Regions from separate parts of the Homo sapiens genome. Here all the other regions are reported to be linked to region 2. Evidence: microRNA targets listed by miRTarBase, many of them from high-throughput screens and not tested one by one. Region 2 holds a microRNA gene; each other region holds the end of a gene's coding sequence.
The links. Region 2 holds the annotated microRNA hsa-miR-770-5p (UCCAGUACCACGUGUCAGGGCCA, at 1,760-1,782, shown strand). A microRNA usually pairs through its seed, bases 2 to 8, with sites in the 3' UTR of a target mRNA and lowers its output. Matches are read on the target gene's strand: a 7mer-m8 pairs with bases 2 to 8, a 7mer-A1 pairs with bases 2 to 7 and ends in A, and an 8mer does both.

Region 1: the mRNA of RCOR3 is a reported target of hsa-miR-770-5p. Seed matches in the 3' UTR shown: 7mer-m8 at 1,950-1,956.
Region 3: miRTarBase lists TOP1MT as a target of hsa-miR-770-5p. Seed matches in the 3' UTR shown: 7mer-m8 at 310-316.
Region 4: the mRNA of ZNF548 is a reported target of hsa-miR-770-5p. The part of its 3' UTR that is shown has no 7-base or 8-base seed match.

Annotation. Positions count from the first base shown.
Region 1 is chr1:211,313,453-211,316,452 of GRCh38, forward strand. RCOR3 (REST corepressor 3) reads left to right here. Exons shown (of 12, transcript NM_001136223.3): 12 at 1-2,933. The coding sequence ends at 316. Among named protein-coding and RNA genes, the nearest start is that of TRAF5, 12 kb to the right of the region's middle.
Region 2 is chr14:100,850,650-100,853,798 of GRCh38, forward strand. MIR770 (microRNA 770) reads left to right here and starts at 1,741; the gene lies at 1,741-1,838. All of the region lies in intron 9 of MEG3 (maternally expressed 3), which reads left to right.
Region 3 is chr8:143,306,691-143,309,690 of GRCh38, reverse strand. It overlaps TOP1MT (DNA topoisomerase I mitochondrial), which reads left to right. Exons shown (of 14, transcript NM_052963.3): 14 at 148-367. The coding sequence ends at 250. Among named protein-coding and RNA genes, the nearest start is that of ZNF696, 17 kb to the right of the region's middle. RefSeq lists enhancers at 1,384-1,884, 1,885-2,385.
Region 4 is chr19:57,399,480-57,402,479 of GRCh38, reverse strand. It overlaps ZNF548 (zinc finger protein 548), which reads right to left. Exons shown (of 4, transcript NM_001172773.2): 4 at 1-3,000. The coding sequence ends at 2,591. Among named protein-coding and RNA genes, the nearest start is that of ZNF17, 10 kb to the left of the region's middle.

The DNA of each region.
Region 1 (3,000 bases), not on the chromosome of region 2:
GGGTCCATCACCTCCTGCCCCATCATCCACTCCAACACCAACAGCCCCTATTGCCACTCTGAACCAGCCTCCACCACTTCTTCGTCCAACACTGCCTGCTGCCCCGGCTCTTCACCGGCAGCCTCCTCCACTCCAGCAGCAGGCTCGGTTCATCCAGCCCCGGCCAACTTTAAATCAGCCTCCACCACCTCTTATTCGCCCTGCTAATTCCATGCCACCCCGTCTAAACCCAAGACCGGTGTTGTCCACGGTTGGTGGTCAACAGCCACCATCACTTATTGGAATTCAGACAGATTCACAGTCCTCACTGCACTAAAAATTAAATTGGACACAGCTGCAGTAACTTTTCACCCCATCATTATACCAGTGCTCATCTGACTGATGAAAAAGAGGAAAGAATAATCATTTCTAGATACTGAGGCTGCGAACTAGTTCTGTGGCAGTGGACTAGCATAAGTGGATGTCTAAGAAATTTTTCAGTTCACTAGACTAAAATGTTTTACAACAAAAAGCCTCCAGTTAGCCTCCTTTCTAGAGTATATGTTCAGCAATGTTGATCTCATAAAAGGAAAAACAAAAGATTTAAGTATTCTATATACCAAGTTTTTGTTTTGTTTTTACTGTATTTATTTTATTGAGGTTCTTTATATTCCTGCCTCTTCATAGTCAAGGCTCTTAGTACAGGAATATTGACTTAGGAATTGTGAAAACTCCTTAAGTTTCTTAAGTTAAGGATGTTTGGCTTTTTTCTTTAATTTTTTAAAAACCATTTTCCTATGTTAGGAGTGCAAGAATAGCCAGCATTTCCGATTTTGACATATGTTCATTTTATGCATATTTAAGAAATTATAGCTGCATATCCCTTCTTTCAAAAAATGTTGCTTTTTTTTTTAAAGGAATTTTAATATATTCCTTTAAAAGAAAGCAATTTAATCAATTGCAAAGCAATTATATAAAACCACAAAGAATGTACTGAACCTACTAACCCTTTAACATACAGTTTAGGGTCCTAGCGCAGAGTCCTTGTTTAAAGGTCATTGACTCATCATCTGTCAGTAATGAGAGGATTGGAAGAATAATTTTGCATACAAATGAGGACTTAATTTGTTGAAATATAATCTCTTTAAGTTCCTTGAAAATGGAGTTGGTTTTTTTTGTTTCTAAATGCTATCTGCTTTTAACTAGTAGTTGCCTACATCTGGGGACTTCAGAGAAGAATTATATTTTGTTAGTTAAGTAGACACAGTGGTTATGGAAGCATTTCTTTACAGTACCCTTTACATGTTTGGTTTCTGAACTTAAAATTGCCCTCATACTTAATAATATGGTCTGCATTTAATATGAAAGGTGTTTTATTGATAAATCTATTGTACTATTTGGATACATTTGTGTATTCCTTGCAGCCAACCTGTATTCGTGGGATTGGTGTAGGGTTAAATCATCAACATTATTTCATAAAATAAGAATTTGTTCTGTGTTATCTAAAGATGTATCAGTATATTGTCACAGTTGTGCTGTTAACTAAAAATGCTGAGACCCCTTTTTATAGAAAAACAAAAAGACATCAAGTCTTCTTAATTCAACCCATAATCATTAAGTACTTAACAAAGAATATTTTACAAGTGATAGTATTTCAACAATGTGTAATTAATATTTTTGATACAGTGATTTCATATTGGAATCATTATTTGTGCAAAGGGACAGACAGATCACTTAGATTGCTATACTAGTGGACATAGGCTACATGTTTGCACATTCACATTCTTATCACGTGTAGAATACTTCACAAAATAGTCAACATCTAAGGCCCTAATTTATGTTTTGAAAGATCATGTGTTCCCAAAGTATTCCCTATTGTTGGCTCCACAGCCTTAAAGTGCTATAGATTTAAATTCATTGATTAGTTTTAATTTTTAATTTTAGACTGTGTATTTCCATAAATACCCTACGTACTGGCATATTTGAAACTCTTTTTCCAGGTTAGGTCCTTTTCTTTCTCATTGAATCATCTTAAATAGTTCTTGGCCCTGAATTTAGCTGATTTAAAATTCTTAATATTCAAGAATTTATACTTATTTTTTCCTTAAAAGCCACAGGGGACAGTTAAATATCTTAAAATATCTAAAACATTTTTTAAAGCACTTAGATTGTCTTACGTATGTGCATACTATACCTTTACAGCGTTTATTGTCTTGTCTCTTGTCAGTAGACCTTCAGTACACAGTATGTGGGATATGTCAGTCAAGTTGGTCAGCACCAGCATCTGTCCAGCTGTTCAGTATATTGTGATTCATTAAAAAATCTCTTCTATCCCAGACATGGGCCAAGGTGCTGTATCTGAGGGATGTGCTGTAATTTGATTTACATGCATTAGAGCACACAGTAGAAAAACTTTAGCTTCATTAGTAATATGACACATGTATATAGTGAGATGTCTTTATTGTGTGCTTTGCATATTTTGTAAATATTTTGCACGTCATTATTTTTCTTTTTTGTTTAAGCAGTGTTTGGCCTGGAAGAGTGATATGCTTGCTGCTTAATCAAAGGATTAAAGATTTAAAGATGTCTATGTCTTCTATTTTTATATAATTTCATGTTCTATGAGGAATTTAGTACCTCTTCACTGTGAAATTCGAAATAATGATTTTTATAAAAGCAAAACTAGAAATCTTTTAATGACAATTTTCATTAATTTCAGGGTTATCATTTTTGAGAAATCTACACCAAAGTGGTTTTTTAAAATTACATAACTAAAAATAAACCACACTGTGGATACATCTTATAAAACTAATGGAAACAATGTTTTTCTATATGATTTAATTCTAGTGTAATATGGATGAGGTAAGAGTAAGTTATGATCAAACTTTTTATGTTCTTAATAAGCTTGCAATTGAGTAAAATAGAATATAAAATAAAGGTGAAATAATATAAAATTTTGTCTTAATGTAGGCCTACATTCTTTTTAGGAATAGATGTAGAGAGCAAGCCAAGAACGTGACT
Region 2 (3,149 bases):
AGGAAGAGTGAGAGGAAGAAAGAAAGATGCAATTTGGGAAGAAATGAAAAAGAAATGAATAAAGAATAAAATAATGTAACGGTCAATAAATAGGACTTGTGAATGGAGGCCTTTAGGCCAAAGGCTATGATTAATTTCAAGCTATGTTACTGAAGTCCATAAACAAAGGACTCAGATCTAAATGGATGAACGAATGACTGGAAGAAAGGGTGGTAGGAAGGTAGGAAGAAAGGAAGGAGGGAAAAAGGGAAGAGAGGAAGGAACCTTCTTTCCAGTCCTGTGTTCTAGACAGTGGAATGAAGTGGTCCCCAGGGAGGGTGGCTGTAGGCATGTCATGTGCTTGTCACATGCACTTGCCCTGGCAGGGAGGAGCTGGCTCAGGAAGACCCTGGTCTTGGGGTGCTGTTGCCCTATCTTGGCTGTGTGGGCCATTTCACTGCATCTGTCTCTTCCTCAGTTTCCCCATCTGTAAACCTGGAGTGGCACCAGCTGCCTACTAGAGTTGATCTTATGTGTCTCTGTTGATGGTACCCCATCTATGGCCTGGATAGGCAGGAAGGGCTTGGACCCTGAGCCCCGCAGAAGGTTGCATGAACGAGTGGTGTGAAGCCTGTTGGGTAGCTTGGCCACTCCCGCGGCATGGGTCACCTGCACAGGAGGTTTTGCCCACCAGGGGGCAGCAGAGGGTCAGGGAGCAATAGGCCCTGGGTGGAGCATGGGCCCCGCCTGCTGTGTGCCACCCTGGGTGTGGCACCTACTCACATCCAGGGGTTGGTGCAGGGAAAGGCCAGAAGGTGGCCAGGCGCACCTGAGAAGGGGGACCCAGAAGCCCCGGGACCCAGGAGCCCTGGGCAAGCCACCAGAAACCTTGTTCTTGCAACTCTCTGCAGTGTGCCCAGGCCACCCTCTGGCCTGGTCTTCCATGGGGCAGGGCGCCCACCCTTCTCAACTCAGGTTTCCCTGGGCAGCAGGTGCACCTCAGCACCCCTGGGGTTGCAGAAGTGGTCCGGGGACCCTGGCTTCCTTGACATGCCATCCCCAGAGCCTGGTTCAAGGCCTCTCTGTCTTCTCGGCTGTTTCACGACGTGTTTTGTAACTTGGCGGGATTGCGTTTCGCTGTGTCGAGGTTGTCTCTTCTCTGACTCGCCCTCCGGGGGACTGCCGGGGTAAATCTGGAGAGTTGCTCGTGCTGACAGTCCTCCCCCAGGGCCTCCCCGGTTCTGTTGAGTCTCCTTTCTCTGTAGTGGAGGAAATGTGTGTAGTTTTGTGTTGTGTGCCTGTGTTTGTCTGTAAAAGCAAGGACCAAAGTCTCCCTTGTTGACCTCTCAATTCCTATTTGGGACATATAAAAACACTGGATTCTTAACAAGCGCCCGGAGCAGTAGGAGCACAGCTTGGATGGACTCAGGACTTGTGGCAGGGAGCACGTGGGAGGCAGGGGAGTGGGGTGGGGCCAGGCCATCTGGAGTGGGAGGCGTCATGCTCAGAGTGACTCTGTAGACGCTGGGTGGGATGGGGAGTGCGGGCGCAGGCATGGATGGGGCTGTTAGCTAGTGTGATGCTTGAGGTCTGAGCTGATGGCAGCAAAGTGGGGTGCTCAGGAATCAAAGCTATGGGGTTATAGACAGGATATGAAGGAGGGAGGGAGGCAAGAAGAAGGGGGTGGTTCCCACGCTTCTAGCTCCGGCCGAGTGGATGGCAACAGCATTTGGAAGGCGGAGGACATGGAATTCATGTGTCAGGAGCCACCTTCCGAGCCTCCAGTACCACGTGTCAGGGCCACATGAGCTGGGCCTCGTGGGCCTGATGTGGTGCTGGGGCCTCAGGGGTCTGCTCTTCTTCTCTTTCAGAATCTGGGGCTCCAGGCTATGCCTTGGCTGGACTGAGGTCTGGGGGTGCACTTATTATCCCTGGGGACACCTGCTGAAGCTTCTCCCTGACAAGCTGTGTCACTGTTGGATGAGGATGGGGCGGGAGGGGTTCAGGGCAGAAGAAGACCGGGAGGGTCTTTCAAAAGAACTCATGTACGGCTGTTAAAAAAAGTCAGCAGAGGCTCAGGAAGACTTAAAGTGTGCAGAAGGCGGGGAAGGGAGGGCCCATTGCATGCACCAAGAGGAAATTGGAAGGAACAAGCGACGTTGGCTGCTAGGAGAGCCTGCTCCCAACATCTAGGGGCTGTCCTGACGGGTCACAGTGGGTCGAACTGAGCCAATGAGAGCAGCTCTGGGGAGACCCACTGGTGCCCTGGAGGCTGGGTGGGTTTGGGTTGGATGAATTCTGTGTGTCCTTTTGGAAATGTGGAGGCCATGAGGGGGGATCAGGGCTCTTAGGGTTTTGACCCTTAAGAGTTTTGTATCTGTAATTCAAAGGTTCTTTAGTTCTGGGATGCTGAGATTCGGGATAGGGTTCCTAATGGCACAAAAGCCAGAGATAAAACATCCTTCACGTGCTCCCTACCCGGTTCTTTCTGTACCAGACCCACAAGGTCCGAGTTGGGATCCTAGTGCTCCTGTCTGGTCAGGGCCTATCTTTATGTGTTCGTTAAACTTTTAACAATGAGAATTAATTCTGTCTCTTGACATTGTCATTTGCATGCTCCCCACACACAAATCCTTTCCTGGTGACACCAGGAGCTACAACTCTCCTTGGCCTCCTCTTGTGACTCCCAACTCCCTCCTTGGGAAGCTTGGCCTCAGGACCTCTGGGATAGACAGGCCACGAATCCTGCTGTGTCCCGTTGTGTTCCTAATATAAATGGTGTGGATGGCACTTGACCTAGAGCAGTGGGAAATGCATGCACCACTCAACATTCTGACATGTCACCCATTTTACATTCTTACAGGCATACTTTTTTTAAAAAAAGAGTGTCTATTCTTTAATGAGCATCCCTTCTTTAAAAAAACCTAATTGCCATTATTCACCACATACACTTTTTTTTTTTTGTATCCTGCCTCTTCTATTTAATTTTCTGTCATCAACATTTTCCCTTGTTCCATGAATCTTCATAACCTCACTTGCTGCGTTGTGCCTTGTTGAGTGGCTATGGCATCATTCACAGAACCATTCTGTTATTCTTATGTATAACCACCTTTTAAAAATATTATGAATAATGCCACAACTAACTGCTTAAAACACCCTTTTTTTCATTC
Region 3 (3,000 bases), not on the chromosome of region 2:
GTTGGCCTAGAGGAGCAGGTCCCAGCTACACCAGGCGGCTCTGGTGTCTCTGCTGCATGGAGGACGCTCGCCCTTGCCGAGCACCCTGACCTGGCCTTCAAGGTGGGTGAGTTGCCTGCTTGCCTGGGCTGATGCTGCCTCCCGCAGGTGCAAGCGGTTCAGGGTGCCAGTGGAGAAGATCTACAGCAAAACACAGCGGGAGAGGTTCGCCTGGGCTCTCGCCATGGCAGGAGAAGACTTTGAATTCTAACGACGAGCCGTGTTGAAACTTCTTTTGTATGTGTGTGTGTTTTTTTCACTATTAAAGCAGTACTGGGGAATTTTGTACAATAAAATGTGTGCAAGTGCTTGTACATCACTAGAAAAAGTCCCCAGGCCGGCCGGGCACGGTGGCTCACACCTGTAATCCCAGCACTTTGGGAGGCTGAGGCGGGCGGATCACAAGGTCAGGAGATCGAGACCATCCTGGCTAACACGGTGAAACCCCATCTCTACTAAAAATACAAAAAACTTAGCCGGGCGTGGTGGCGGGCGCCTGTAGTCCCAGCTACTCGGGAGGCTGAGGCAGGAGAATGGCGTGAACCCGGGAGGCGGAGCTTGCAGTGAGCCGAGATCGTGCCCCTGCACTCCAGCCTGGGCGACAGAGTGAGACTGTCTCAAAAAAAAAAAAAAAAGAAAAAGAAAAAGTCCCTAGGCCAGGCACAGTGGCTCATACCTGTGATCTTGGCATGTTAGAGGCCTGAGGCTGGAGGATTGCTTGAGCAGACATTGAGGCTGCAATGAGCTGTGATTGCGCCCCTGCACTCCAGCCTGGGCAACAGAGCAAGACCCCATCTCAAAGAGAAAGAAAAGTCCCTGACGCCTGCCGTGTCCTTTGAAGCCTCCACCCCGAGCATGGAGTCTGCTGGGCTGTCACATCCAATCAGCGTCCCAGCCTGGACCCCCGGTTCCCGCTCGACAGGGGAGGAGAAACACCTTCGTGTGCTCTGAGGCTGAGGACTTTGGGTGAGGATTCCACATTTGCGCACGCGCCACCCTCTCAGCGGGGCCCGGACTCTTCACCAAGTTCTTTAGCGCCTGGAATTCAGCAAGGGCACAGTTGCTGCCTGGTCACTAAGCCCAGCGGCCCCCGTTCAGTTCTCATCACCTCCACACTCTCCATACGTAGCTCTTAGCTCTTACGATGGCCTTCTGCCTGAGCTTCCCAACCCTGTATCCTCTCAGAGCTGCCTGTCGGCTGCCCTCTGCCACGCGGGATCCTCTGCCGCCCTCTCTGCCACGCGGGACCCTCTGCCGCCCTCTTCTCTGCCACGCGGGACCCTCTGCCGCCCTCTTCTCTGCCACGCAGGACCCTCTGCTGCCCTCTTCTCTGCCACGCGGGACCCTCTGCCACCCTCTCTGCCACGCAGGACCCTCTGCCGCCCTCTTCTCTGCCACACGGGACCCTCTGCTGCCCTCCTCTGCCACGCGGGACCCTCTGCTGCCCTCTTCTCTGCTATGCGGGACCCTCTGCCGCCCTCTTCTCTGCCACGTGGGACCCTCTGCTGCCCTCTTCTCTGCCACGTGGGACCCTCTGCCGCCCTCTCTGCCACACGGGACCCTCTGCCGCCCTCTCCTCTGCCACGTGGGATCCTCTGCTGCCCTCTTCTCTGCCACGTGGGATCCTCTGCCATGCGGGACCCTCTGCCGCCCTCTCCTCTGCCGCCCTCTCCTCTGCCGCCCTCTTCTCTGCCACGCGGGACCCTCTGCCGCCCTCTCCTCTGCCACGCGGGAACCTCTGCCGCCCTCTCCTCTGCCACGCGGGACCCTCTGCCGCCCTCTCCTCTGCCACGCGGGACCCTCTGCCGCCCTCTCCTCTGCCACGCGGGACCCTCTGCCGCCCTCTCTGCCACGCAGGACCCTCTGCCGCCCTCTTCTCTGCCACGCGGGACCCTCTGCTGCCCTCTCCTCTGCCGCCCTCTTCTCTGCCGCGCGGGACCCTCTGCCGCCCTCTCCTCTGCCACGCGGGACCCTCTGCCGCCCTCTCCTCTGCCACGCGGGACCCTCTGCCACCCTCTCTGCCACGCAGGACCCTCTGCCGCCCTCTTCTCTGCCACACGGGACCCTCTGCTGCCCTCTCCTCTGCCACGCGGGACCCTCTGCTGCCCTCTCTGCCACGCGGGACCCTCTGCCGCCCTCTCCTCTGCCACGCGGGACCCTCTGCCGCCCTCTGCTATGCGGGACCCTCTGCTGCCCTCTCTTCTGCCACGCGGGACCCTCTGCCGCCCTCTCTGCCACGCAGGACCCTCTGCTGCCCTCTTCTCTGCCACCCTCTTCTCTGCCACGTGGGACCCTCTGCTGCCCTTTCCTCTGCTACGCAGGGCCCTCTGCCGCCCTCTCTGCCACACGGGACCCTCTGCCGCCCTCTCCTCTGCCACGTGGGATCCTCTGCTGCCCTCTTCTCTGCCACGTGGGATCCTCTGCCACGCGGGACCCTCTGCCGCCCTCTTCTCTGCCACGTGGGACCCTCTGCTGCCCTCTGCCACACGGGACCCTCTGCCGCCCTCTCCTCTGCTACGTGGGATCCTCTGCTGCCCTCTCCTCTGCCACGTGGGATCCTCTGCCATCTGCTCCGCGCTTTGCTTTCGGGGCTGCCTCTGTGGCTGTCTCCCTCACACCGGGGCTCCCGCCAACCCCATGAGGCAGCCCCTGTGTAAGGCTCCTGGTCAGCCAAGAGGACCCCAGCGCCCTGGAGGCTGCACCCCCATCCCTCCTGCTGTGGGGCCCTTGGTGCTCCAGGCCCGAGTCTCTCACACCGCGGCTCACCCGCTGCCCCAAGGGGCTCCGGCAGCAGGTCCAGCTCCTCCCGGGGCCTGTGACAGAACAGTTCCAGCAGGGGGCTCTCACGTCCCCACCTGCTCCCAGAGAGGTGCTTCTGTGCCCAGACATGGAACAGCTCCACAGAAAATGAGGGCACTGGCCGAGCAGGCCCAGACTCCAGAAGGGAAACCACTGAGGGTG
Region 4 (3,000 bases), not on the chromosome of region 2:
GGGTTGCATCTGAAACACAGTAACAGCAACCTGAGGCTGCAGGGGACAACTTAGGTAAGGCAAGCGGATTGCATTAGCTACGTTTTCCATGTTCCCCATGGATTGGCTAATTTGAGTAATTTGGGCTGGAATACAGCAGTCTGGAGTGTGAAAGCCCACTAGCCTTGTCCTCAACACTGAGTCTCACACACACACACCTAAAATGTGTGGTACTGACATAAAGACAGACATATGACCAATAAAATAGAGAATCCACATATAAACCATGGCATATATGGACAAATGATTTTGACAAGTGTGCCAAGACTACTCAACAGAGGAAAGATGCTCTTTTCAAAAAATGGTGCTTGGAAAACTGGATAGCCACATAAAGTGGACTTTTGCCTTAAACCATATGCAAAAATGAACCCCAAGTAGATTAAAGATCTAAATGTAGCCAGGCACAGTGCATTACAACTCCTGCCTGTAATCTCAGCAATTTGGGAGGCCGAGGCAGGGGGATCACTTAAGGCCAGAAGTTTAAGACCAGCCTGGCCAACATGGCAAAACCCCATCTCTACTAAAAATACAAAAATTAGCCAGGTGTGGTGGTGTACACTTGTAATCCAAGCTACTTGGGAGGCTGAGGTGGGGTGATGGCTCGAACCCAGGAGGCGGAGGTTGTAGTGAGCTGAGATTCCACTACTGCACTCCAGGCTGGGTGACAGAGCAAGACTCTGCCTCCAAAAGAAAAAAAAAAAAAAGACCTAAATGTAAGACCTTCAAATATAAAATTCTTAGAATAAAGCATAGGGAAAATGCTTGGCATTGGATTTGATACTAATTTTTTTTAATATATAACATCAAAAGCCCAGGTAACAGAAGTAAAAATAGATAAAATGCACTACAGTCATCCCTTGGTGTCTGTGGGGGACTGATTCCAGGACCCCTTGTGGATACCAAAATCATCTGATGCTCAAGAGGTCCCTCACATAAAAAGGCATAGTGTTTGAATATAACCTACACACATCTTCCTATATAGATTATCATTAGGTTATTTATAACTTCTAATACAATGTAAATGCTATGTAAATATTTATTATACTATATAGTTTAGGGAATAATGACAAGAAAAAATGTCTGTTCATGTTTAGTACAGATGCAACTACCCTTTTTGTTTTCCAAATATTTTTGATTAATGATCACTGCAATCCATGGATGCTCCAAATACTTTTGATCCATGGTTGCTTCGATCCATGAATACAGAACCCACAGACAGAAAGAGTCAACAGTACATCAAAACTTAAAATTTCATCAAAGGACACAATCAACAGAGCGAAAAAGCAACCTATGGACTGGGAGGTAATATGTAAAAAGCATATATTTGGTAAGGAGTTAATATCCAGAATGTATAAAGAACTACAACTCAACAACAAAAAGCAAATAGTCCCATTAAAAATGGAAAAAAAAGACTTGAATATTTTTCCAGATACACAAATGCCTAACAAGCACATGAAAAGATCCTCAACATCATCAATCATTCACAAAATAAAAATGAAAGACACTATAGATTCCACCTCACATCCAACAAGATAGCTGCTATCCAAAACAAAAGGCACTACAAAAAACCCCAAAAACAGAAATAGAAAATGAACAATGTTGGTGAGGATGTATATAGATTGCAATCCTTGTGCACTGCTGGTGGGAATGTAAAATGGCACAGGTACTATGGAAAAATTTTCCCAAAAATATTAAAAATAGAAATCCTGGCCAGGCGCGGTGGCTCACGCCCGTAATCCCAGCACTTTGAGAGGCCAAGGCAGGCAGATCACAAGGTCAGGAGATCAGGACCATCCTGGCTAACACGGTGAAACCCCGTCTCTACTAAAAATACAAAAAAATTAGCCAGGCGTGGTGGCAGGCACCTGTAGTCCCAGCTACTCGGGAGGGTGAGGCAGGAGAATGGCATGAACCTGGGAGGCGGAGCTTGCAGTGAGCCAAGATCACAGCACTGCACTCCAGCCTGGGTGACAGAGCAAGACTCTGTCTCAAAAACAAACAAAAAAAAAAAATAGAAATCCTATATGATCCAGCACCACCATTTCTGAGTATATACCCTATAAGAATTGAAAGTAGAATCTTGAATAGACACTTGTACACTCATCTTCATAGCAGCATTATTTCAATAGGCAAAAGGTGGAAGTAGCCCAAGTATCCACTAACAGATGAATGGATAAATAAATGTGGTATATAAATACCATAGAATATTATTTCACCTAAAAAGGAAGGATATTCTGACACATTATACAACATGGGTGAACCGTGAAGACCTTATCCTAAGTGAAATAAGCCAGTCTCAAAAGATAAATACTGTAGAATCCACTTATATGAGGTACAAATATATATCAAATTCATAGATATCTATTGGTACCTCATATAAGTACCATAGAGTATAGAAATATAGTTGAGACATTTCTGGGGAAGTAGGGAAGGGGAATGAGTTGTTGTTAATGGGTACAGCATTTTACTTCTTGGTAAGAGGAAAAATGTTCTGGAGATTAGTTGCATAAAAATGTGGAATTTATATAACATTACTACCCAATTACAATAGTCAATGGTAAACTTTCTCCATTGTGAAATCTCTGATGTTTAATGAGGTTGGAGTTTTAGCTAAAGAATTCCCCACATTCATGGAGCACACAAGCCTCTCTTCACTGTGGATTTTCTGGTGATGAACCAGGTGAGACTTTCTAATAAAGGCCTTCTGGCATTCGCTGCACTCATAAGGTCTTTCTCCACTGTGGATTTTCTGGTGCTCAACAAGTATATGCTTGTGGCTAAAGGCTTTCCCACACTCTCTGCACTCGTAAGGCCTTTCTCCAGTGTGATTTCTCCAATGTTTAATGAGGTTGGAGTTGTAACGAAAGAATTTCCCGCATTCGCTGCACTCATAAGGCCTTTCTCCCGTGTGGACTCTCTGGTGTCTAATGAGCCTGCAGTGGTACCTAAATGATTTCCCAC